Regions from separate parts of the Homo sapiens genome. Here regions 1, 2, 3 and 5 are each linked to region 4. The links come from fine-mapping of genetic effects on gene expression. A gene starts in region 4. Each other region holds a variant in brackets. All regions are shown on one strand. Distances are from middle to middle. Region 1 has its middle 110 kb from the start of TMEM170B. Region 2 has its middle 16 kb from the start of GCM2. Region 3 overlaps SYCP2L (synaptonemal complex protein 2 like). Region 4 holds the start of SYCP2L (synaptonemal complex protein 2 like). Region 5 overlaps MAK (male germ cell associated kinase).

Region 1 (5,107 bases), 760 kb before region 4:
TAAATACATGCTACAACATGAATGAACCTTAAAAACATGCCAAGTGATGTAGTCCCAGCTACTCGGGAGGCTGAGGCAGGAGAATTGCTTGAATCTGGGAGGTGGAGCTTGCAGTGAGCTGAGATCACACCACTACACTCCAGCCTGGGCAACAGAGCGAGACTCCATCTCAAAAAGAAAAAAAACAAAACAAAAAAACCCACAAACATATCAAGTGAAGGAAGCCAGTCACAAAGGACCCCATATTATATGACTTCATACTATGAAACATCCAGAACTGGCAAACTGCGGAGACAGAAAGCAGATTAGTGGTTGCCTAAGACTTAGGAGGCATTCTGAACGGCTATTTCTCCCAAGAAGATGCAGAAATAGCCAAATAGGCGTATCAGGGACTGACAGCTAAGGGGTGTGAAATTTCTTTTTAGGATAATGAGAATGTTCTAAAAATTGCTTCTGCTGATGGGTGCACAACTGTGTGGATATGGTAAAGGCCATTGATCTGTAAGCGTCACAGGGGTGAATTATCCGTTATATGAATTTTATTTCATCAAAGCTTTTAAAAAACTATGAGGTTAATTAAATACTCATAATTAGCTGGCAAATTTAATTGAAAGAGCATGGGACTTCACCCAGACTCTTTGCAATCTCGTCCCAACCTTGACCCTGCTCTAAATGACTAAGTAACTGAGGCAAGTGCCTTCGGTCTCCAGCCTCTGCGCCCTCATCTGTAAAACGAGGAGGGTGGACAGATGCTCCCTGAGGACCTTTCCACTTTTAATTCTTTCAGAAAACAGTGACCTCCAAAACAATTGTACTGATAAAATGGCCTGACTGTTCTTTGAACTCTCTGAAAGTTATCATATTCTTTTCCTTGGTTTTTAAAATTCCACCTTGGACTCTACTGGGTAGTTAAAATAATAAGTTAATTGTGTTTGATTTCAATGAAAGCAAAGTGTTTTAGATTAGTGTGTTTTGTTTATGTGCTGATAATGACCTTTTCTGCATGCTGAGGTGGGCAGCAGTAGTGAAATCTGCCCACCTGAAGCCAGCCTCAGTGGGGTCGGCTAGGGCCTGGGAAGCCCCTTCCTACTCAGTCTAAGCTGAGTACATTTACTTCCTCTGAGTCCTCCTCTCTTCTCCCATGCGAATTCTTATTTCCTGGTGTCCCTCATGTGTGAGTACGAGCCCGTTAGGCCCCCAGGCCAGCACCTCATAGACTTACAGATTAATTCTGGTTTGCAAGTGAATCATAGCATGGCCTAACATTTTTTTAGGTGTGAGTTTTGTTGTCCTCACCATTTTTTACTTGATGGTGGTGGAGGAAGGGGTACTCTTTCTGCCAAGCTGCTATATAAAGTATTGGTCAGACGTCTGCTTGACTGGCTAGAATTCAGCCAAGGCTGGCTTCAGAGAGCAGTGAACAGAGCCGGTTGCCTCCTAAGCCCTCATGTTGACAGTGACATAGCTGCGCTGATGTAGAGGCTACTTTCCCTCTTCCCCATTTTCACCCAGCCTCCTGACTCTGTTTCAAAGATTCCCCTTTTCCCTATCAAAATAAATATCTAAGCTTATAAAATACAGCTTCAGCCTAAATCCTGTCTTCTGCTCAAAGCCTTCACATTTGCCTGCACTAATATCCTCTTCCACTGAATCCCATCATAATAATGCTTATAAACCATAAAATGCTGGAAATGGGTGGCTAGTTGTCTAATGTCTTTCAAATCGGCATCTTCTATCAGTTCTCGAGGTCAAAACTAAGTCAAATGCTTCTCTTCTGTCCTCCTCAGTGCCTAGCACAGTTAGATAGACATTAAATAAATGTATATTAATTGGCTTTACAAAAAATGGTCCTAGCGGAGCACCTGCAAAGATGTGGTTCATGCCGGCATCCTGAGACAAGCTAAAATGCTGACAATTCTCAAACAGATTTCTGAAAATGGTAAGAGAAAACTTTCATAAATATTGTGGTCATTCCCTGCTAATCAGCCAGCTAGAACTTTTCTTGGGATATATTTAAGTATTTCTTAAATAAACAAATAATGAAGCTATGACTTTCTTTTTTTTGACACGGAATTTTGCTCTTATTGCCCAGGCCGGAATGCAATGGCACAGTCTCGCCTCACTGAAACCTCCACCTCCCAGGTTCAAGTGATTCTGCTGCCTCAGCCTCCCAAGTAGCTGGGATTATAGGCACCTGCCACCACACCCAACTAATTTTTGTATTTTTAGTAGAGATAGGGTTTCACCATGTTGGCCAGGCTGGTCTCGAACTCCTGACCTCAAGTGATCCACCCACCTCGGCCTCCCAAAGTGCTGGGATTACAGGCGTGAGCCACTGCGCCTGGCTGAAGTTGTCCCTTTCTTTCTCCAACTCTTCTATAGGGGAGGAGTGCATGTCTTTCCAATGCTTTCATTCTTTCCCTCCAGAGACAAGGAACCCATCCCTCTGGACTCCCCACCAGTGCTTTAGGTGAGATCTTCATCTACACTCTGAAATCCTCACCAGGACCTTCACCCCGAGCTGTCTTCTTGAACTTGCCTTTCGTTTCCTCTTCCTAAACCTCTTTGGAGGAAGAAATCCTCTTCCTCAGTCCTCTTCCATGGTAGCCTTTTCCCTCATGCTATCTCTCGAGTAAAAAAATGTTGAGAATCCACGTAGGCAAATTCTACATTACATGTGTATGATTAATGACCCTCTGAAAAATAACATTACCACAAAGTATTTAATTTTAATTTG[G/A]TCATGGCCAACTTTGGGAGTTTGGTTTGCTTTGGTTTGGTAGATCGCAGTGGGCTTCAAGAAAATCGGAGTGGGCAAATAATTAGTTTTCCTCTACCACCTTGTTAGCAGGTAATAAAAAAAAAAAAGCAAGTCCCTGACCAAAACAAGCTCAGAACAGTTCATCAAGCAGTCCTGTAAACTTGGAGTCCCAGCTCTCAGCTCTCTGTTTAGGTGCTCCAAGCATATCCTATAAAAGGTCTGCTCACCACAGACACAGCAACAATTCTCAGCAAGATGCAAAACATTGCAAAACATTGCCATCTGCATTATCTCATCTCTTAACCAATGGCTGTAAGACTAACTGGGGCTCAAGCTAAGAAAATATCCTCAAAGGGAACAGATCCATGGTTGAGTGCATTCTGAGGTCCTCTTCAGTCAAGAAGGAAGGAGGACCTCTAAGCTCTAATCTATGCATCTTGAATTCCTTTAATTTTGCCAGTGAAAACTAACTACCAAGACACGAATTTCATCAATAAAAACCTATTGTTTACACCTTATGTAAGAATCAGCAAAGTAATGGTTGTTGAACAAGGAGGGCTTGTAAAAGACGTGTCTGGCCTTTCTGATGTAATCCTGCCTGGTCACCCCATAAGAGGCGTTCTTGATTGGCACATGAAGTTCACCTAAGCTAAAGTAACACACATAGTATCACACTAGATACTATCAAGTATTTCTTTCTTTCTAGATGGAGTCTTGCTCTGTTGCTAGGCTGGAGTGCAGTGGCGCAATCTTGACTTATTACAATCTCTGCCTCCCAGGTTCAAGCAATTCCCCTGCCTCAGCCTCCTGAGTAGCTGGGACTACAGACGCACACCACCTCTCCATCTAATTTTTTGTATTTTAATAGAGATGGGATTTCACCATGTTGGCCAGGATGGTCTCAATCTCCTGACCTCGTGATCTGCCCACCTCAGCCTCCCAAAATGCTGGGATTACAGGCATGATCCACCGCGCCTGGCCACTGTCAAATATTTCTAAGTAAGCTACAGGCATGATAATCCTATAAACTAACACTTTATACCTAAAACTGCTTCAGAAAAATATGTTGCATCATTTTGTAAAGTAGAAAACTACCCCACTCTCATATTTATCCTTTACATGATTTTTTAAATTTATCATTTTTATTTATTTATTTCAGAGATGGGGTCTTGCTATGTTGCCCAGGCTGGAATGCAGTGATTATTCACAGGTGCAGTCCCACTACTCATCAGCACAGTAGTTTTAACTGCTTGTATCTGATCTGAACTGGCTCACCCCTCTTTAGGCAACCTGGTGGCCCCTGCTTCTGGGAGGTCATCATAGTGATGTTGAACTTAGTGCAGATGCTTAACCAGCATAGCGTCCTACAGCCCAGAACTCCTGGGCTCAAGTGATCCTTGCGCCTCAGCCTCCTGAGTAGCTGGGACTAGAAGCTAAATGATTTTTTATAATCTGGTTTTCTTAAAGTTAGGCTCACATGTGATGGAATGCTGTCACTGTACCAGGCAGGTGTGTGAGCACTGGGAGAGTTCCCATGTAGGGTCCTCTGAACAAGTAATGAAGATGGAAGTTTGATGGCTGTGTAGTGACATAGTGATATCGCTGCTGCTGGTGAAAGGGCCTTTTAAGCTACGTTGGGCAGAGAGGGACTGTGACTCTCATCCTGAACTCTCTACTTCACATGTGGGCCCCACTCTCTTCCCACAAGGGTTGTGGTTGGCCAGTTTTTTCCATACCTCTCCAGTTACACACTGAAAAGCCTGGAGGTCTTAAGCTTTTGATGTTCAATGACTACTTTGAGAATGTGGTGAAAATCTCTTCAATAAAATTGCATGTACACACCTGCAAAAAGCAAATTTTAAGTATCATTTCAGTGAGTTATGGACCCCACCACCACCAGTTTCATCCTTAAATCTCCTAGGAATCCATCAAGGTGGTCAGGGAACCTCTGACATTATGACGTCAAGAAAGTCAGTTAACCTCCCTGAGCCGCTGAGTTTCATCTTCCATAAAATTTGCTGCTCTCATAGTGCTACTGCCTACTCCATCACAGTACTCTGGGGAGGGAGTAAAATATCAATTATGGAAGTACATTGGAAAGTGTAGATTACTGTGTGAATGCACGGTGACTCTGTTTAATGAAAGTGCAACCCACCGGGAGGACCAGCTTCTGTCTTCTGGGCCTTTCCCTGGACACAAAAGATGTTACCTGGCATCTGAGTTTGCTCATGTCCTTCTGTGTTTTATCAAAACCAGATAAGTGACACTGATTCCCAGGACTGTCCTCTACCGTGATGGGAAAATCAATATACCTGTGGTGTCTTCTCCCCTCTCAAACATTGCCCCTTA
Region 2 (5,107 bases), 21 kb after region 4:
AAAAATTAAATAAATAAAATTTAAAATTCCATCCCTCAGTCACACGAGCTACATTTCAAGTGCGTAGTCGCCATATATAGCTAGTGGCTACTTCATTGGATGGTGCAGAAAGAGGACATGTCCATCGTCACAGGGAGTTCTATTGGACAGTGTTGGTATAGAGGAGGACAGGGGAACCTTGCATGAAGCCATGAAGAGTTCCCAATTTGGAGTTAAGAGGAGAAGGATCTGATAGAGGAGATGAGAATTAGTGTCCAGATAAGTAGAAAACCAGGACAGAGAAGGGGGTCACAGAAGCCGGAGTCGAACTCTTTCAAAAGAGAGAAGGAGGTCAACATTGCAGAATGCGGCTGAGATGTTAACATGAGCGTCCATTGGGTGTAGCAACAGGGAACGTGTTGGTGACCGTGAAGACACCTGTTTCCATGGGGTGACGGGGCTCTGTGAGGCAGATTGGAATGGGCTGAGGGCCAGTGGGAAACAAGGAGCTGGAGACAACATACGTACTCTCTGGATGATGTAACATTGATTTTCAAGTGTGAATAAAAGTCAACGTGCTTGATTAAAAACTGTAGTGAGAGCTTCAAATTTCTTCCAGTGAAATTTGCCTTGGTGATAGGGTTGCCACAGTTAGCAAACAAAAATACAGGCCATCCAGTTAAATTTGAATTTTGGATAAACAATGAGTAATTTTTTAATATAAGCACAGTCATTCATCACTTAGCAATGGGAATATATTCTAAGAAATGTGTCCTTAGGCGACTTCATCCTTGTGGAGAAACCAGATTGTATTTGCACAAACCTAGATGATAGAGCCCACTATACACTTAGGCTAATATGGTAGAACCTATGGCTCCTAGGCCACAAACCTGGACATCATAGTACTGTACTGAATATTGTAGGCAATTATAATGTAATAAGTATTTGTGTATCTAAACATATCTAAACATAGAAAAGGTACAGTGAGAATATAGTATAAAAGATAAAAAATGGGCCGGGTGCAGTGGCTCATGCCTGTAATCCCAGCAATTTGGGAGGTCGAGGTGGGTGGATCACCTGAGGTCAGGAGTTTGAGACCAGCCTGACCAATATGATGAAACCCTGTCTCTTCTAAAAATACAAAAATTAGCCAGGCCTGGTGGCATGCACCTGTAATCCCAGCTACTCAGAAGGCTAAGACAGGAGAATAGCTTGAACCTGGGAGGCAGAGGTTGCGGTGAGCCAAGATCATGCTGTTGCACTCCAGCCTGGGCAACAAGAGTGAAACTCCGGCTCAAAAAAAAAAAAAACAAGATAAAAAATGGTACACCTGTGTGGGACACTTACCATGAACAGAGCTTGCAGGACTGGAAGTTGCTCTGATTGAGTCAGTGAGTGGGTCATGAATGAATGTGAAGGCCTAGGACCTTACTGTATACTAGCATAGACTTTATAAATACTGCATACTTAGGATACACTAAATTTATTAAAAATTTCTTCCTTTAATAATAAATTAACCTTAGCTTACTATAACATTTTTACTTTACAAAACTTTTTAATTTAAAAAATATTTATATATATATATATATATATATATAAATTGTACTTTAAGTTCAGGGATACATATGCAGAATGTACAGCCTTGTTACATAGGTATACATGTGCCATGGTGGTTTGCTGCACCTATCAACAATTCATCTAGGTTTTAAGCCTCACATGCATTAGGTATTTGTCCTAATGCCCTCCCTCCCCTTGCCCCCCACCTCCAGACAGCCCCCAGTGTGTGTTGTTCCCCTCCCTCCTCCCTGTGTCCATGTGTTCTCATTGTTCAACTCCCACTTGTGAGTGAGAACATGCAGTGTTTGGTTTTCTGCTCCTGCGTTAGTTTGCTGAGGATGATGGCTTCCAGCTTCATCCATGTTCCTGCAAAGGACATGATCTCATTCTTTTTTATGGCTGCATAGTATTCCGTGGTGTATATGTGCCACATTTTCTTTATCCAGTCTATCATTGATGGGCGTTTGGGTTGGTTCCAAGTCTTTGTTATTGTGAATAGTGCTGCAATAAACATGTGTGTATGTGTCTTTATAGTAGAATAAATTTTTAAAAACTTTTTGACTCTTGCAATAACAGCTTAAAACACACATTGTACAGTTGTACAAAAATATTTTCTTATTTATATTTCTTTCCTTCTATAAGTTTTTTTCTATTCTTAATTTTTTATTTTATTTTTTGCTTTTTAAACTTTTTTGTTGTTAAGAACTAAGACACAAACACGCACAGTAGCCTAGGCCTACATGGGGTCAGAATCATCAATATCACTGTCTTCCACCTCCACATCTTGTCTCTCTGGAAGGTCTGCAGGAGCAATAACATGCACAGAGCTGTCATCTCCTATGGTACTAATGCCTTCTTCTGGAATCCCTCCCAGAGGACCCACCTGAGGCTATTTTACAGCTAACTTTTATTTATAAATAGACGGAGCACACTGTAAAATCATGATAAAAAGTATAGTAAATACATAAACCAGTAACACAGTTGTTTATTATCATTATCAAGTATTACATATTATACATAACTGTATATGCTAGACTTTTATACGACTGCAATGCAGTAGGTTGATTTACACCAGCATCACCATAAACACACAAGGAATGCATTTCGCTATGACGTTATGACAGCTATGATGTCACTAGGCAATAGGAATTTTTCAGCTCTATTATAATCTTATGGGACCGCCAACATATATGCAGTTCATAGTTGACTGAAGTGTCATTATGTAGTGCCTGAGTTTGTATCCCAAATACTGCGTGGACATAA[CA/A]AAAATTATTCATCATTTTTCTTAAATTCAAAGTTAGGTGTCCTGTATTTTATCTGGTACTCTACTTAATGTGAATATTATCATTTAATTTCATTCTTGTCCAAAATGTACTAAATGACATTTGAATAAACCAAAAAACTAAAAGTGCATTTATATAAAAACAATTCAGGTACTGAACACTTATGAAAAAATAATATTTATTTTAACTGTGTACTCTAGTGGGAGAAAAAATATTTTATTATCCTTTAAAGTATACACATCAAAGATAAACAGCACAAGATTTTAAAAAGCAAAAAAATCACCCTTTGACGTTTTCATTTACAAACGACACTATCAGCTGATTGTCAACCTATTTACTCATATTTCCATTCTACTTGGGTGAGATAAAGCAAGAGTGTCCTTTGAATGTTACATCAGTAATGTATTTTCCATTCATCAGCCCATTAGAGTTGGGTTTTCTGCTCCTCTCTCAGACGGCTGAGCTACCCACATAGTGTTATGGTTTGAATGATAAATTTGAATGACAAGCATGAGGCATGTCAGGGTTGTGGGCATGGGGGAGAAGAGGAAGAAGGAGAAGCCCTCTCCAACTGCAGCGACCTGTGGCTCTTCAGATGCAGCAGAAGGGCACTACTGGGTAAAAATGCCAGCCACCTGCCTTTGGAGGCCTCCGCCTGCGGAAAATAAACATTCTCTCTTCCAATGCTTCTTAAGTGTGAGGTTTTAAAAACCCCAGTTGAAAAAGCCTTCTGCTTCAAGAGGGCCTATGTATTAGGCTGCAGTACTGATCCGGGTTTCCATAAACCACCTGAATTCCTTCTCTTAACCACTTTAAGCACTATGCTTTCAAAGATCATTTCTGGCTATTGCCAAGATGTAGCAATAAAACCCCTTAATTCAAACGTGCCCAGAATTGTGACACCAGAATGGATGTCATCTATCCCAGTCTTCTGTTATCAGGACTGAGTGCCCTGTGGACAGATGCCCATCCATTTCTGCTGTGGGTGCTACTGTCCTCTGCAAGGATGCCACTGTCCTCATGGAACGCTAAAAAGAGCTTTTAGAATAAAGGTACAACTTTATGATCTGGTTTTGTGATTTTTAAAAAAATTAAGCTTACCTCAAAAAATATATCTGCAAAGATTATTTGAAAAAAAAAACTCATGACATTATCAACAGAATATATGCATTCACCTGTTAGATGCTAAATGCTCACTATGAGAATTACAGAGAAGCATAAAATGAGGTCGCTGCTTTCAAGAAATTTGTAGTAGGAAAAAACAAATAGGCCCGGCACAGTGATGCATATCCGTAGTCCTAGCTACTCAGGAGGCTGAGGCAGGAGGATGGCTTGAGGCTGCAGTGTGGTCGTGAGTATGCACTGTGATCCTGCCTGTGAATAGTCACTGCCCTCCAGCCTGGGAGACACAGCGGTACCCAGCCTCTAAAAAATATTTCAAAAGAAATTTGTAGTAAACAAGAGAAATAAGACACGCCAAATAATAGGTTAAATAGCAGGGCATGGCAGTACATTATTGCATGCATTGTATTTTATACATAGGAAAATATAATGATATTTCAAGAATTTTTACTTGCTAATTTTATGATTGTTGGAAACATTAAAATTGTGAAGGCTGAACTTGTCTCTGCAGCTGGAAGAGCTGGGCAGAGGAAAATTCTCCAAGGAAAGAATGAAATGGGGAAGGCAAAACAGCCCAGCTGCAGAGGCAGAGGGGAAGATGAGGAACACTCTTCATGAATATTTTCCTCATCTTGAAGCTTTTCTTATTAAAATATTTTCCTTATTAGTATTTTCTTCTCCAGATGTTCTTCAAAAACTTTCCATGTACACATTCCTCAAATTACTTCATAAGTAATTTGTTCATAAAATCTTCATGAAATTTGTTCACAAAATTTTATGAAACATCCTTATGAATATTCAACAACTATCTTTATGAATATATTCTTCTTGATTATGAATATTTTAATACATTTGTAAGAATAATATACTTGAATGAATAGAGCACTGTTTCTATTTGTAAAGAATCTGTTTTTGAAGCAATAGATGTTGAATATGTTCATGCACATAATAAACATATCAATGATCCCACATTCAAACAAAGTTTCTGAACACCTACAATGTTCTAAAACCTGACAGTAAAGGGATGGACAACGTAGACATGGTTCTTGCCCTCATGGGGCTTACATTCTTTGTGAGGAATATGTTTTTTTGTTTTGTTTTTTGTTTTTGAGACAGAGTTTCGCTCTGTCCCCCAGGCTGGAGTGCAGTGGCATGATCTCAGCTCA
Region 3 (5,107 bases), 34 kb before region 4:
AGATCATGCCACTGCACTCCAGCCTGGGTGACAGAGCAAGCCTCCATCTCAAAAAAAAAAAAAAAAAAAAAAAGTGTGTGTTTCAGACAATAGCCTCCTTGCAGCCTCCTCCCAGGTCACCAGCCCTTTCCTGACAAATTGTAATCGGGCTTACAAGAGAAAATGGCTTAGACCAAATTCACAAAGAGGCCAAGAATACACCACATTAAGTACAAGGTAAGTCGGAAGAAGGAGAATAGAAAAGGCAGCAAAGTCCAGGAAAGAACAGGCAAAGCTAATGGCCACAAATTAATGAGACGGGAAACAAGGGGAAAAAAGAGGGAAACATACATGAGTCTAAATCTGTGAGGTCCAACTCATCAGAGTACTGAAAGCATGCCTAGTACTAACCGAGATGCTCTGTAAGCACAAAATACGCATCGGATTATGAAGACTCAGTACACAAAAGAAGAATGTAAAATGTATCATTAATAATTTTAAAATATTGATTACATGTTAAAATAATATTCTGGATATTATTATTCCAGGATATAATATTCTGGGTTAAACAAAATATATTAATAAAATTAATCTACTTAATCTACTTTTTTAATCTACTCAAATTAATCTACTTTTTTCTTTAATGTGACTACTAGAAAATTTTAAATTAAGTATCTGGCTCACCTCATATTTCTATAGGACAGTGCTGGTCTAGAGTAAGCCTCCATGATCTCCCCAAAATACTAATCTTGCCGGACATTTTACTCATCACTCCAGGGAAAGTCTATAAAACCATGCAACAAAAGTAATCTTAAATATCTTAAAAAGTAACTAGCTAATTGTTAGCCCGGCATGGTGGCGGGCGCCTGTAGTCCCAGCTACTCGGGATGTTGAGGCAGAAGAATGGCGTGAACCCGGGAGGAGGAGCTTGCAGTGAGCTGAGATCGCACCACTGCACTCCAGCCTGGACGACAGAGTGAGACTTCGTCTCAAAAAAAAAAAAAAAAAAGTAACTAGCTAACTGGGCCGTGGGATCAATGCAAACATATACAAGGGTCAGAAGAAATACCATGAGGGCTACATCAAGCTTCCAACATACTACACTGCCAACTCCATAACCAGAAGGGCTATGATACAGAACAAAAGTCTTACTTACGGAATTTACTAGACAATCATCAGTTTCTTTGGCTATAAGAATGGAAAGAGTAATACCTACTTCCTGTAGAAATTGTGAGGCACTTTGTAAATTAAAAACCATGAACCACAGAAACGTGATCTATTCATGAAGTTACAAAATATTAACTTTGGCAAGTTGACTCCTGAAAGCTGTTAACTGAGCACCCACATTCTTAAAGAAAATAATGAATTATTTTTACCTTTTTCCTTTTCCCCCACCTCTTACTTAGCTCTTTAGGAATGCAATTATGAAAAACAAACAAACAAACAAACAAAAAACATTAAAAAGTGGTCGGCCAGGCATGTTGGCTCACGCCTGTAATCCAGCACTTTGGGAGGCCGAGGCGGGCAGATCACGAGGTCAGGAGACCGAGACCATCCTGGCTAACACGGTGAAACCCCGTCTTTACTAAAAAATACAAAAAATTAGCCAGGTGTGGTGGCGGGCGCCTGTAGTCCCAGCTACTCGGGAGGCTGAGGCAGAAGAATGGCATGAACCCAGGAGGCGGAGCTTGCAGTGAGCCAAGATCGCGCCACTGCACTTCAGCCTGGGCGACAGAGCGAGACTCCATCTCAAAAAAAAAAAAAGGTGGTCAAAGGACATAAACAGACACTTCTCAAAAGAAGATATTCATGCAGCCAACAAACGTATGAAAAAAACCTCAACATCACTGATCATCAGAGAAATGCAAATCAAAACCACAATGAGATACCATCTCATGCCAGTCAGAATGGCTATTATTAAAAAGTCAAACAACAGATGCTGGCAAGGTTGCGGAGAAAAAGGAAGACTTTACACTGTTGGTGGGAGCGTAAATTAGTTCAACCATTGTGGAAGGCAGTGTGGTGATTCCTCAAAGACCTAGAGAAAGAAATACCATTTGACCCAGCAATCCCATTACTGGGTATATGCCTAAAGGAATATAAATCATTCTATTATAAAAATACATGCACACCTATGTTCATTGCAGCACTATTCACAATAGCAAAGACATGGAATCAATCTAAATTCCCATCAATGATAGACTGGATAAAGAAAATGTGGTACATACACACCTTGGAATACTATGCAGCCATAAAAAAAATGAGATCATGTCCTTTGCAGGGACATGGATGGAGCTTGAAGCCATCATCCACAGCAAACTAACACAGGAACAGAAAACCAAACACCGCATGTTCTCACTTATAAGTGGGAGCTGAATGATGAGAACACATGGACACATTGCGGGGAACACATACTGGGGCCTGGGTATGTTGGGGGAGAACATCAGGAAGAACAACTAATGGATGCTGGGCTTAACACTTAGGTGATGGGATGATCTGTGCAGCAAACCACTATGGCACATGTAACAAA[C/T]CTGTACATCCTGCACATGTACCTATGTAACAAACCTGTACATCCTGCACCTATGTAACAAACCTGTACATCCTGCACATGTACCCATGAACTTAAAAGTTGAAGAAAAAAAAAAAGGAACGCAATTATAACATTTACCTTCTTTCCATGAGGCACTCTCTGTCCTGCAGAGAGTATGTAACAAACCTGTACATCCCGCACATGTACCCATTAACTTAAAAGTTACCTATGTAACAAACCTGTAACAAACCTGTGTAGGTTTACCTATGTAACAAACCTGTACATCCTGCACATGTACCCATGAACTTAAAATAAAAGTTGAAGAAAATAAAAAAAGGAACGCAATTATAACATTTACCTTCTTCCCATGAGGCACTCTCTGTGCTGCAAGCTCATCTAACTATATGTTTGCTTAGAAATTCTAAGGAGGCCAGGCACGGTGTCTCACGCCTGTAATCTCAGCACTTTGGGAGGGCGAGGCTGTTGGATCACTTGAGGTCAGGAGTTCGAGACCAGCCTGGCCAACATGGCAAAACCCCATCTCTACTAAAATACAAAAATTAGCTGGGTATGGTGGTATAGGCCTGTAATCCCAGCTACTCAGGAGGCTGAGGCAGGAGAATCGTTTGAACACAGGAGGCAGAGGTTGCAGTGAGCCAAGATCACGCCACTGCACTCCAGCCTGGGTGACACAGTGAGAGTCTCAAAACCAAACCAAACCAAACCAAACAAAACAAAAAGAAATTCTAAGGAACAAACGTTGAACCAAACCAGGCACCCCCTGAGATTCTCCCCACCAGGAGATTGCCTTGAGACAACAGTCAATGTACAACCTAGTTCTGCCCACGATGGCACCAGCCAGACCACCTGATGGATAAGACATCAAAGCAAGTCATGAAGACCCCACACTTCCTCACTCTCTCCCTTACATGCCATTCATGCCAAGTCCCCTTTAAAATCCCCTGCTTTCTTGCTCACCCATTGCCTGCAAACAGACTTGGTGGTTTTGAGGGTGGGGGGTACCGTGGGAGTGAGACCGGCCCTTTGGATTGCATGGGAGCTGGGTGAGGCCTGTGACTGCTGACTTTTCCCCATTTCCCTGACAACCTGCATGACTCAGCAGAGACAGCCATAATCCTCCTAGGAACATAACTCCATTGACCTGGGAACCTCACCCATATCCCCACAGCAGCCACAGCAAGACCCACCCAAGGAGAGTCTGAGTTCAGACACTCCTAATCCTGCCCCCACCCAATGATCCTTCCCTACCTATCCTGGTAACTGAAGACTAAGGGAATATACTCTTGGGAGTTCTAGGGCCCCACCCACCGCCTGTTCCTCCCTACACTACCATAGCTGATGCTCTCTGGAAATCACCACCTACCGGCAGAAGGCCAACCAGCACAAAAACAGAGCATTAAACTACCAAAGTTAAGAACCATCACAGAGTCCATTTCACCCCACTGCCACCTCCATCAGAACAGGTGCTGGTATCCATGGCTGAGAGACCCATAGACAGTTCACATCACAGGACTCTGTACAGACAACCCCCAGTACCAGCCCGGAGCCTAGTAGACTTGCTGGGTGGCTAGATCCTGAAGAGAGATAATAGTCCCTACGGCTCGGCTCTCAGGAAGCCACAACCATAGGAAAAGAGGGAGAGTACTACATCAAGGGCACACCCCATGGGACAAAAGAATCTGAACAACAGCCTTCAGCCCCAGACCTTCCCTCTGACAGAGCCTACCCAAATGAGAAAGAACCAGAAAACCAACTCTAGTACTATGACAAAATAAGGTTCTTTAACACCCTCCAAAAATCATACTAGCTCACCAGCAATGGATCCAAACCAAGAAGAAATCCCTGATGTACCTGAAAAAGAATTCAGGAGGTTAGTTATTAAGCTAATCAGGGAGGCACCAGAGAAAGGTGAAGCCCAATGTAAGGAAATAAAAAAATCATACAAGAAGTGAAAGGAGAACTATTCAATGAAATAGATGGCATAAATAAAAAACAATCAAAATTTCAGGAAACAATGGACAACTTACAGAAATGCAAAATGCTCTGGAAAGTCTCAGCAATAGAATCGAACAAGTGGAAGAAAGAAAGTCAGCCGGGCATGGTAGCTCACGCCTGTAATCCCAGCACTTTGGGAGGCCAAGGTGGGCGGATCACGAGGTCAGGAGATTGAGACCATCCTGGCCAACATGGTGAAACCCGTCTCTACTAAAAATACAAAAATTAGCTGGGTATGGTGGCACGTGCCTGTAATCCCAGCTACTCGGGAGGCTGAGGCATGAGAATCACTTGAACCCAGGAGGCGGAGGTTGCAGTGAGCTGAGATCACACCATTGCACTCCAGCCTGGCAACAGAGCGAGACTCTGTCTCAAAAAAAGAAAAGAAAAAAAAAGTCAGAGCCCGAAGACAAGGTCTTCGAATTCACCCAATACAACAAAGACAAAGAAAAAAGAATAAGAAAATACGAACAAAGTCTCCAAGAAGTCTGGGATGATGTTAAACGACCAAATGTGAGAATAATTGGCACTCCCGAGAAAGAAGAGAAATACGAAAGTTTGGAAAATATATTTGGGGGAATA
Region 4 (5,107 bases):
CAAGAGAATCGCTTGAACCCGGGACGCGGAGGTTGCAATGAGCTAAGGTTGCACTATTGCACTCCAGCTGGGGAAGCAAGAGTGAAACTCCATCTCAAAAAAAAAAAAAAAAAAAAAGGCTGATCTCATAGAAGTAGAGAGAATAGTGGTCACTAGAAAAGAGGAAGTGAGATAGGCAGAGGTTAGTTAATGAACACAAAATTACAGCTAGCTGGAAGGAGTAAGTTCTAGAGTAAGATAGTACTGCAAGGTGACTATAATGTACAACTTATTGTATATTTTCAAATAGCTATACGAGTAGATTTTGAACATTCCCAACACAAAGAAATAAATATTTGAGGTGATGGATATGCATAATTACCCTGATTTGATCATTACACACTGTATACACATATGGAAATATCACACTACACCCAATTAACATGTGCAATTACTATGTGTCAATTAATATATGTGTCAATTAAAAATAAATGATAAAGGCAAAGAAAAAGAACCATTGTGTTAGTGGATAATTGAGTAGAGGCAAAAGTGAGATAGGAGGAACAGCTAAAGCTACAATTAAAATTGGGTGTTAGGCCAGGCGCAGTGGCTCACGCCTGTAATCCCAGCACTTTGGGAGGCCAAGGCGGGCATATCATGAGGTCAGGAGTTCGAGACCAGCCTGTCCAATATGGTGAAACCCGTCTCTACTAAAAAATACAAAAATTAGCTGGGCGCAGTGGCACGTGACTGTAGACCCAGCTACTCGTGAGGCTGAGGAAGGAGAATCACTCGAACCCAGGAGGTGGAGGTTGCAGTGAGCCGAGATCCAGCCACTGCGCTCCAGCCTGGGTGACAGAGTGAGACTCCGTATCAAAAAAAAAAGGGTGTTAATTCATAGCATAAACTGACATCAAATAAACACTATGCTACGTATCTATAATTTCTAAGTTTTGTCAACAAATTCTGAATTAGTGGGAAATACTTCCCATCCCAAAGAAAATATTCCCGGGAGCCTTTATGTTAAGCTTCTTTACCTCTTTTCTCTATAGACACGGCCCTATCTCTCCTTCAGTTCAATTCGTATGCAGAGATGCTCTGCTTATTTTTATTTCTACCTCCTTTCAACCTTCTCTGGCCTTGGTGGTCAGTACTTTGCAAATTCCAAAGAAATGCTTCCTGTTTCTGGAATTTCTGGAGCCACTCTAGTACACAGAAAGGTATCCCCCTTCTGTGAAGATCATGTGGCAGCTTTTGTGGGTAGGAACCTGACAGGAAAATCAGAAAGTGGGATGGTTTAGGCAGAAAAGATCGTTAGATTCTCTGAGATTCAGTCTCCTCATTTAAAAAACATGATGATAGCCGGGCGCTGTGGCTCACGCCTGTAATCCCAGCACTTTGGGAGGCCGAAGCGGGCAGATCATGAGGTCAAGAGACAGAGACCATCCTGGCCAACATGGTGAAACCCCGTCTCTACTAGAAATACAAAAATTACCCTGGCGTGGTGGCGCGCGCCTGTAGTCTCAGCTACTCGGGAGGCTGAGGTAGGAGAATCGCTTGAACCCGGGAGGCAGAGGTTGCAGTGAGCCAAGATCACGCCACTGCACTCCAGCCTGGGCGACAGAATGAGACTCCGTCTCAAAAAAAAAAAAAAAAAAAAAAAAAAAAAAAAAAAAAAAAAAAAAAAAGATGGTAACACCTATATGGAAGGATTGGAGTGAGGACTGACTGACAGAATGTCTGTAATGTTCTTAGCATAGTGCCTGGGCACATAAAAATGGCTCAGTGAATGGCAGCTTTCAATGTAACAGGGATGGAGAGGGTGAGGAGGTTATGCTTAAGTGCTCTGAATTTAAGCGTAGCTTGATGTTAGAAAGGTTTCTGTCCCAAATCTGTTTCCCCATGGCTGGGAAGATGGCGCCAGATGACAGATGGATTTTATGGAGAACAAGAGTGAGTTCCTGGATCTAGGCAAGCAGTTACCCCTGGCTATCAGAATCACCTGGCGTCCTCACTAACAAACTAACAAACTACCGGCCCACCGTAGACCAATTACATCAGAATTTCTACCACCAGGAACCCAGGCAGAAGAATGTTAGAAACACGCCCCAGGTGGTTTTTGTTTGTTGTTTTTGGCGTCCCTGGGTGGGCTCAAACTTCATGTGTTTTTTTTTATTATTTATTGATAAGTAATAATTGTAGCTTTATCTTAGGGGCTGTCCTTTGTCGTTCGGTTAAATGAAGTCCCAGCACTTGGGGTTGCTTAACACTTCTGCACTTTCTACGCAGCAAGGTGGAAAGAGGGCTGGAAAACCGGCTAGGAAAATACGCAAAGCAACTAGAAAAGAACTATCTCATTGCTTTCCGAACACGAATTCTCCGGTTCCCCTTTCCCTGAGCGCTATTTAGCTAGGGATCCGAGGTTTCTATTCTGCCTGGTCTCCCCGCAGGCTGCCAATACACTCCGAGCAAACCCAAGGAGGTGGCGGGGGACTATGCCCAGCACCCGGTCTCTGAGCGAACACCTCAAGGCGGCAGAACCTGAGCCCCAGGGACCCCGCGCCCTCGCGCGCCCTAGCACTGTGGACAGAAGGTCCGGGCCCTTCGGGGGTCACTCACCGCTTGCATAACGAGGCTTCTTCGTTCCTGAAGCGACGCGCCGCTCAGCTTTGTTGCGCTCGGTCGGCCCTCTCCTGCTTCCCCGCCCAAGAGCCCCGCCCGCTGGGGGCGCTGCCGAAAGAGCCCTGGTGGCGGACCGCTCTTCGAGTCGAGTCTTCTTCCGCAACTGTAATTGACGAATCCGCCCCCTGAAGTTTACTAGAGCTCTGTGTTTTGAGACTCAAGAAGCGCGTGCAAGTAACTAGCGCACACAGGCCAAACCACCTGGGCGCACGCACTCACCCTTTAAGAGAAAGCCAGCACTCAAAGGATGTGAACTACGTCATTTAAACGTTCCTTATTTGCGAAATTCCAAACAGATAGGCGTTCGCTTTGTGGTAGCTGTTCCAAGTTTTTGCCCCGCCTTAAAAAGCCAGAGGGGCGGCCAGGCGCGGTGGCTCACGCCTGTAATCCCAGCACTTTGGGTGGCCGAGGCTGGTGGATCACTTGAGGTCAGGAGTTCAAGACCAGTCTGGTCAACATGGTGAAACCTTGTCTCTACTAAAAATACAAAAAATTAGCCGGGCGCGGTGCACGTGCCTGTAATCCTAGCTGTTGGGGAGGCTGAGGCAGGAGAATCACTTGAACCCGGGAGGCGGAGGTTGCAGTGAGCGGAGATCTCGCCACTGCACTCCAGCCTGGGGGACAGAGTGAGACTCCGTCTCAAAAAAAAAACAGCCAGAGGAGCAGTTTTTGGTCCATTGATGTGTGCAGACAGAAGCCGAACCCTTTCCTATGGTAACCAGACTTGTACCCGATATTATTAATACATTCCTGATTTCACACACACACAAAGTGTGTTTGGTGGTTGTTTTTTAAGTACCGTGGTGGGGAGGAAGGGGAATTTTTTTTTTTAATCAAAGCAAATAGTTTTGTTTTTGTTTTTGTTTTTTTGTTTCTTTGTTTGCCTATTTCCTTTAACCTGACAAGTATGCGTACCAATGGCTAGGCTGATTCGGATAGGTGGCCAGTTGTGTGAACACGGTGGCAAAATTAAATTGGACTAGAGTTTTCCACAAAAAACAAAAAAAAGACCCCTCCAATCCAAACATCCTTTGTGTAAAAATCAACTTGTATTATAACTAGACCTGTGAGTATTTCAAGTCATAATATGTACGGAAGATATTTGTCTACACCAAAGCAAAACATAACAAAACCAGAACCCCTGTTAGCCCAGGACTTGCACACATTTCTAGTCCGTTCAAAACAATGTTTATGTCAAAGCCTGTCATATCAATTTCCTGGAAAGTATAATGTAAACATTCTTACATTAATTTACCTATTTTAATCTAAACCAAGGAAATTCAAACGCAAGTTTTTTTCCTTTTCAATGAATGGACTTTTGTAATATTAAACTAGTAATCAAGACAGGAACAGCTGTGAGTATAAGCTATTGTGAGTCAATACAAATATAATACCAGGGCAAGAAAGAAACAATGAATAATAAGAAGCAATAAACAAAATACTACAGTTTAAATGAATTTTAAGAGAATATTTAAAAATTAGAGTTTTCATAATATTAGATAGAAAACTTAATCATCTATTATTTTCAGGCTTTGGGGGAAAACATGTCCTTCCAAAGTCTATGGTGCAATGCATTCAAATCTTTAAGAGAAATTAAAAATAACAGAATAGGCAAAATACCTTTTATCTGGTTTTTTTTTTACTTTGATTAGCTTCTTTTACTAACATGTTTTGTCTTAATATAATTTATGGCAACTTGAAATGCATACTCTAATTCTTCTCAAACTAAATATAGTAGAGGCTCTATGACATTTCTTTGGATACCAGAATCCCTTTAGAAATTAATTGATTTGCCTTTTACATAAAAAAGTTTTATTTATTTATGTTTTTGACGGGTCAGGTCTCTCTAGGAACATTCCAAAAGCACAGAGACAAGAACTATTCTAGCACTGCAATAAGACCAAAAATTAATTTCTATGCATTTTCAGAGGTAACTTTAAATCACCATTTTAAAGTTATTTTTAGAACATTTGAAAGGATAAGTTATCTTAGACTACAACATTTAATGAAATACTATAATTAAAATGGATAATCAATAAATTTTCATTCAATTTTGGAAGACAAAACAACACGAAAAGCAACTGAATCAACAGGAGTTTCGGGGACCTTTGGCAGACAGTTAATAAGATGAAAAATCTGTGAATGAAACTCGTGGGTGAAGAGTAGACAGATCTCTTCGTTCCCAGCTAGACCTCAGTGGCGACCATTTGAGAGTGATTTTAATCAGAAACCTTGACTGACAGGACCTTTTAGGAGGGGAGAACTTCGGGAGAAAGGAGGCTGGGAATGAACAAATCACTTTCTTCTGCTAGGACCCTTCGGCTTTGACTGGGAGGAGGACCCCAGCTAGAAGATAAAGGAGGAAAAAATCGCGAGGAACTGCTCGAAGTTGGCCTTTCTTCCCAACAGAGTTCGCTGGTCCGCTGCCACTGGCAGGCTTCTCTGA
Region 5 (5,107 bases), 58 kb after region 4:
TGAGGCCAGGAGTTCGAGACCAGCTTGGCCAACATGGTGAAACCCCATCTCTACTAAAAATACAAAAATTAGCCAGGTGTGGTGGTGCGCACCTGTAATCCCAGCTACTGGGGGTCGGGGTGGGCACCTGTAATCCCAGCTACTGGGGGAGTGATGGTGACAGGGGTGAGGACTCAGGGACAAAAATCACTTGAACCTGGGAGGCGGAGGTTACAGTGAGCCAAGATTGTGCCACTGCACTCCAACCAGAGTCTCACTCTGTCTCAAAAAAAGAAAAAAATTCTTTTTTGTCTTTTCAGCAGTGTTAATAGCATCTCTACCAGAAGTAGATTCCATCTCAATAAAACAGTTTCTTTGTTCATCCATAAGAAACACTTCCTCATTCATTCAAGTTTGATTATGAGGTTACAACATTTCAGTCACATCTTCAGGCTCTACTTCCCTTTTTATTTATTAAAAAATTTTTTTTTCTTTAGAGACAGAGTCTTACTCTGTCACCCAGGATGGAGTTTAGTGGTGTGATCATAGCTCACTGTAACCTTGAACTCCTGGGCTCAAGCAATCCTCGTGCCTCAGCCTCCCAAGTAGCTGGGACTACAAGCGTGCCATCAAGTCCAGCTAGTTTTTTAGTTTTTGTAAAGAAGGGCATGATATGGTGCCCAGGCTGGTCTTGAACTCCTGGCCTCTACAATCCTCCTGCCTTGGCCTCTCAAATCACTGGGATTACAGGCATCAGCCACCACGCCCGGCTATGTTTCTTATTTCTTTGTATGAACCTAGTGTGACACTAAATCCTAATTAGTATTTACATTTTTCTTAGTTTGATGTAAAATAAAGTAGCATGTTATTTAAATAGAATATGAAATTTTAAAATAATGCTATTCCTTTCATATGAAACAAAAGTTTGCTTTATACTTACCTTACCCAATTGGGGTACTTATATTCCACAGAAAATTTACAAGTAGTACAGTTTTAAACAATATGCCAAATTAAATATGATACAAAAATTGATTCAAAGAATGGATATCATATAGACATCAATTTTCCAAGGTCTGATTTGGAATAATGTAGATTATATTTAGTAAAAAAGGAATCATACAAGCCATTATGCCATTATTGAACATAAATAGCACAGTACCATGTAAATGAGGCATTTACCAAGTGAGTATTACCAGTGAGTTATATGTGAACTTCATTTTACATAGACAAATGACTTACTGACAAATATTTAACACAATAGTATTTATATTATTTATAATTTTCCCTTTGCTCTAAGTTGCCAGTACAATTTTTGAAGAGACTTGTTAATGAAAATTCATGATATCCTTGTTTTCTTTCTTTAGGGTGTTTATAAGAATGGAAGTGTTGTTTCCTTGCCCGATTCCTTCATGCTATATCTCATGAACCTCTGTAATCTTGGGGGAGAGACTATATTTAATGATGACAAACCTGTCACCAGTGTAGCAACAACAGTGTGAGGACAAAAGCAAATAAAAATTAAGAAGCGTTCAAATTTATATTCAACAAGGAAGTCATTTCAATCAACAACTTCTGCTGCATTATTTTTCCAAGATGAACCGATACACAACCATGAGACAGTTGGGGGACGGCACGTATGGGAGTGTGCTTATGGGCAAGAGTAATGAATCCGGGGAGCTGGTGGCCATCAAAAGGTACTGTGTGTGACACTGCCAACTTCACCTTTGAAAACTCTGCTCTTTATTTTCCTGTCCTCGCTTAAGAATATATACCAGCACAGGCCAGCGCGGTGGCTCATGCCTGTAATCCCAGCACTTTGGGAGGCCGAGGCGGGCGGATCATGAGGTTAGGAGTTTGAGACCAGCCTGGCCAACATGGTGAAACCCTGTCTCTACTAAAAATACAAAACTTAGCCAGGCATGGTGGCACGCGCCTGTAATCCCAGCTACTCAGGAGGCCGAGGCAGGAGAATTGCTTGAACCCAGGAGGTGGAAGTTGCAGTGAGCTGAGATCGCGCCACCGCACTCCAGCCTGGGTGATACAGTGAGACTCCGTCTAAAAATATATATATATACGTGCACACGCACACACACACACACACACACACACACACACACGTGCACACAGGCTG[T/C]GTGCGGTGGCTCATGCCTGCAATCCCAGCACTTTGGGTTGAGGTCAGGAGTTTGAGACCAGCTTGGCCAACATGGTGAAACCCTGTCTCTACTAAAAATACAAAAATTAGCCAGGCATGGTGGTGCACACATGTAATCCCAGCTACTCAGGAGGCTGAGGCACGAGAATCGCTTCAACCTGGGAGGCAGAGGTTGCAGTGAGCTGAGATTGCACCACTGCACTCCAGCCTGGGTGACAGAAGGAGACTCCATCTCAAAAAAAAAAAGAATATATACGAGCACAGAAAGAGGTCTAGTTTAGATCAAATAGCATCTGGCTCATGTGGAATGTCATTCTTGGAAAAGAACATTGCCAAAGAGGAATTCTGCTGTTTTTCTTCTATATTACTTTAACTGTCTGGCTTGTCCAGCTACACTGATAAACCAAAAAATATGAGTGCCTCCTTTTTTATATGTATAATACATTTGGACCAAAACTACAGGTGATCTTTGGAATGTTCTTCCAAATTTATTTGTTGGTTTTCGTTTTTGTTTGTGTTTTTTGAGATGGGGGTCTCACTCTGTTGCCCAGGCTGGCGTGCAGTGGTGTGATCATGGCTCACTGCAGTCCTGACTTCCCAGGCTCAAGCAAGCTACCCACCTTGGCCTCCCAAAGTGCTGGAATTACAGGTGTGAGCCACCATTCCTGACCTGTTTTTCACATTTAAAGTTGAGTGCAGAGTAGGGCTTATTATTTCTTTAAAACAAGGTCTCAAAATCAGATGGTATTCATAATGTCAAATTGAGTTCTGAATGATATATGTTATATTCCTGAACTTATGAAATAGAATTGTTGTTAATTTGTTTGTTTTTAATCCACTGTGTTTATCTATTGCTGCATAACAAAATACCTGCAAAGCTTAGTGATTTAAAATAAGAAGAAACATTTATTAATTCACATAGTTTCTGTGGGTCAGGAATTTAGAAGTAGCTTAGCTGGGTAGTTCTGGCTTGGGTTCTCTGATGGCAGTCAGATAATTGGCCGAAGTTTCAGTCATCCGAAGGCTTGACTGGGACTGCAGGATCTACTTCCAAGGTGGCTCACTCTTGGTTTGCTAGGGCTGCTGTAACAAAGTATCACAGACTGGTTGGCTTAAACAACAGAGATTTATTTCCTCACAGTTCTGGAGGCAAGAAGTGCAACATCAAGGTATCTGCTGGTTGTTTCTTCTGAGGCCTCTCTCCTTGGCTTGTAGACAGCCATATCCTCTCTAGGTCTTTATATGATCTTCTCGTTGTGCATGTCTGTGTCCACATTTCCCCCCTCTTTTTTTTCAAGACAGGGTTCCATTCTGTCGCCCAGGCTGAGGTACGGTGGTACAAACATAGCTCACTATAGCCTCAGCCTCCTGGGCTTGAACCATCCTCCTGCCTCAGCCTCCAGAGTAGTTGGGACTGTAGGCGTGTACCACAACATGTGGCTAATTTTTAAAAAATTTTTTTGGAGTGATGGGGTCTTGCCATGTTGCCCAGGCTCCTCTTATAAGGACACCAGTCATATCAGATTTGGGCCTACCTGAAAGACCTCACTTAAACTTAATTACCTTTTTAAAGACCCTATCTTCAGATACTGTCACACCGTGAAAGTCTGGGGGCTAGGACTTCAATATAGGAGTTTTGGGGGACACAGTTGAACCCATCACACTCACTCACAGGGTTGGCATATTTGTACTGGCTGTTGGCAAGAGGCACCTCAATTCCCTTTTACAGAGGCTCCTTCCTTGGGCCTTTCCAGAGGGTTGTTTGAATAGCCTCGGGACATGGCAGTTGACTTCCACCAGAACCAGTCCCGTACTCATGGGATACGCATCTCCACATTACCACATCAACCAAATTATGACAAACTAAAATTTAAATACTTTAGCAAATGTTTTAAAATATTATGATCTAAACCATTACATGTACAAGGAAATAACTTCATAAAATATTTTTAAATAGTCATTATCATCAGATAAGTAAATATATAATATACAATAATGGAAATGAAAAATAAATTGAATAGGCTTAATAAAATTCAGTGCTCATTTGTGATTTGATGAACTAAAAAAAACAAACATTGATTTCTTAAAAAACTTATGATAAAGCCTCTTGGCTGAATGCAGTGGCTCACACCTATAATCCCAGCACTTTGGGAGGGCAAGGCAGGAGGATCGCTTGATCCCAGGAGTTTGAGACCAGCTTGGCAACATGGTGAAACCCCACCTCTACAGAAAATACAAAAATTAATTGGGCATCGTGGTGCTCACCTATAGTCCCAGCCACTCGGGAGGCTGAGGTGGGAGGATTGCTTGAGCCCAGGAGGTCGAGGCTGCAGTGAGCCAAGATAGTGCCACCACTACTGTACTTCAGCTTAGGTGACCTAGTGAGACCCTATCTAAAAACAAAAACAAAAGTAAAACAAAACAAAAACTTAGCAAATAGGAATAAAAAGAAACTTCCCTAACCTACATAATTCATATTAATGTGAATTAGTACGAAAACCTATATAATTCATATTAATGTGAAATATCAGAAGTAATATCAGTACAAATTGTTTGAAAACCCCAAATGCCTGCTAGCAGTCCTGCTGATTAGGATTGCATTGGGGATACTTACTACTGCTATAAGACAGAAACCTAAGAAATGAGTGTTATTAGACAAAATGAGCTGAAATAGCCCACATTTGTAGATTAAATGATTATGTAAATTCACACAAAGAAATACTTTATTATATACAAATACATCCATATACAAAAATATTTTTAAAGGCCTGGAAAGATACACCCAAAATCCATGATAGCCATGGGTTCTGGGGAGGAGGGTAGGCGAATCAGAAGGGGTGTTGGGTCTTGGGTACAGTCCCACAGATGGTTATTACTGTCTGGTTTTATATGACAAAATGTCCATCATTTTTTTCTGAGTGGCAAAAATATGGTATTTGTTTTATCCTTCAAAAATATGGTATTTGTTTTGTTTTG

Evidence for each region. PIP is the estimated chance that this variant, and not a neighbour inherited with it, causes the effect.
Region 1: its variant is fine-mapped to the expression of SYCP2L in prefrontal cortex (CommonMind, PIP 0.95).
Region 2: its variant is fine-mapped to the expression of SYCP2L in tibial nerve (GTEx, PIP above 0.99).
Region 3: its variant is fine-mapped to the expression of SYCP2L in subcutaneous fat (GTEx, PIP 0.96).
Region 5: its variant is fine-mapped to the expression of SYCP2L in breast (GTEx, PIP above 0.99).

What each region holds. Positions count from the first base shown.
Region 1 is chr6:11,643,152-11,648,258 of GRCh38, reverse strand. No RefSeq gene overlaps it. Among named protein-coding and RNA genes, the nearest start is that of TMEM170B, 110 kb to the right of the region's middle. The variant G/A (reference allele first, on the strand shown) is at 2,738.
Region 2 is chr6:10,863,704-10,868,810 of GRCh38, reverse strand. No RefSeq gene overlaps it. Among named protein-coding and RNA genes, the nearest start is that of GCM2, 16 kb to the left of the region's middle. The variant CA/A (reference allele first, on the strand shown) is at 2,800.
Region 3 is chr6:10,918,347-10,923,453 of GRCh38, reverse strand. All of the region lies in intron 14 of SYCP2L (synaptonemal complex protein 2 like), which reads right to left. Among named protein-coding and RNA genes, the nearest start is that of SYCP2L, 34 kb to the right of the region's middle. The variant C/T (reference allele first, on the strand shown) is at 2,510.
Region 4 is chr6:10,884,627-10,889,733 of GRCh38, reverse strand. SYCP2L (synaptonemal complex protein 2 like) reads right to left here and starts at 2,682. Exons shown (of 30, transcript NM_001040274.3): 1 at 2,599-2,682. The coding sequence starts at 2,607. RefSeq lists an enhancer at 2,747-3,515.
Region 5 is chr6:10,827,114-10,832,220 of GRCh38, reverse strand. It overlaps MAK (male germ cell associated kinase), which reads left to right. Exons shown (of 15, transcript NM_001242957.3): 2 at 1,344-1,673. The coding sequence starts at 1,573. Among named protein-coding and RNA genes, the nearest start is that of MAK, 8.9 kb to the left of the region's middle. The variant T/C (reference allele first, on the strand shown) is at 2,111.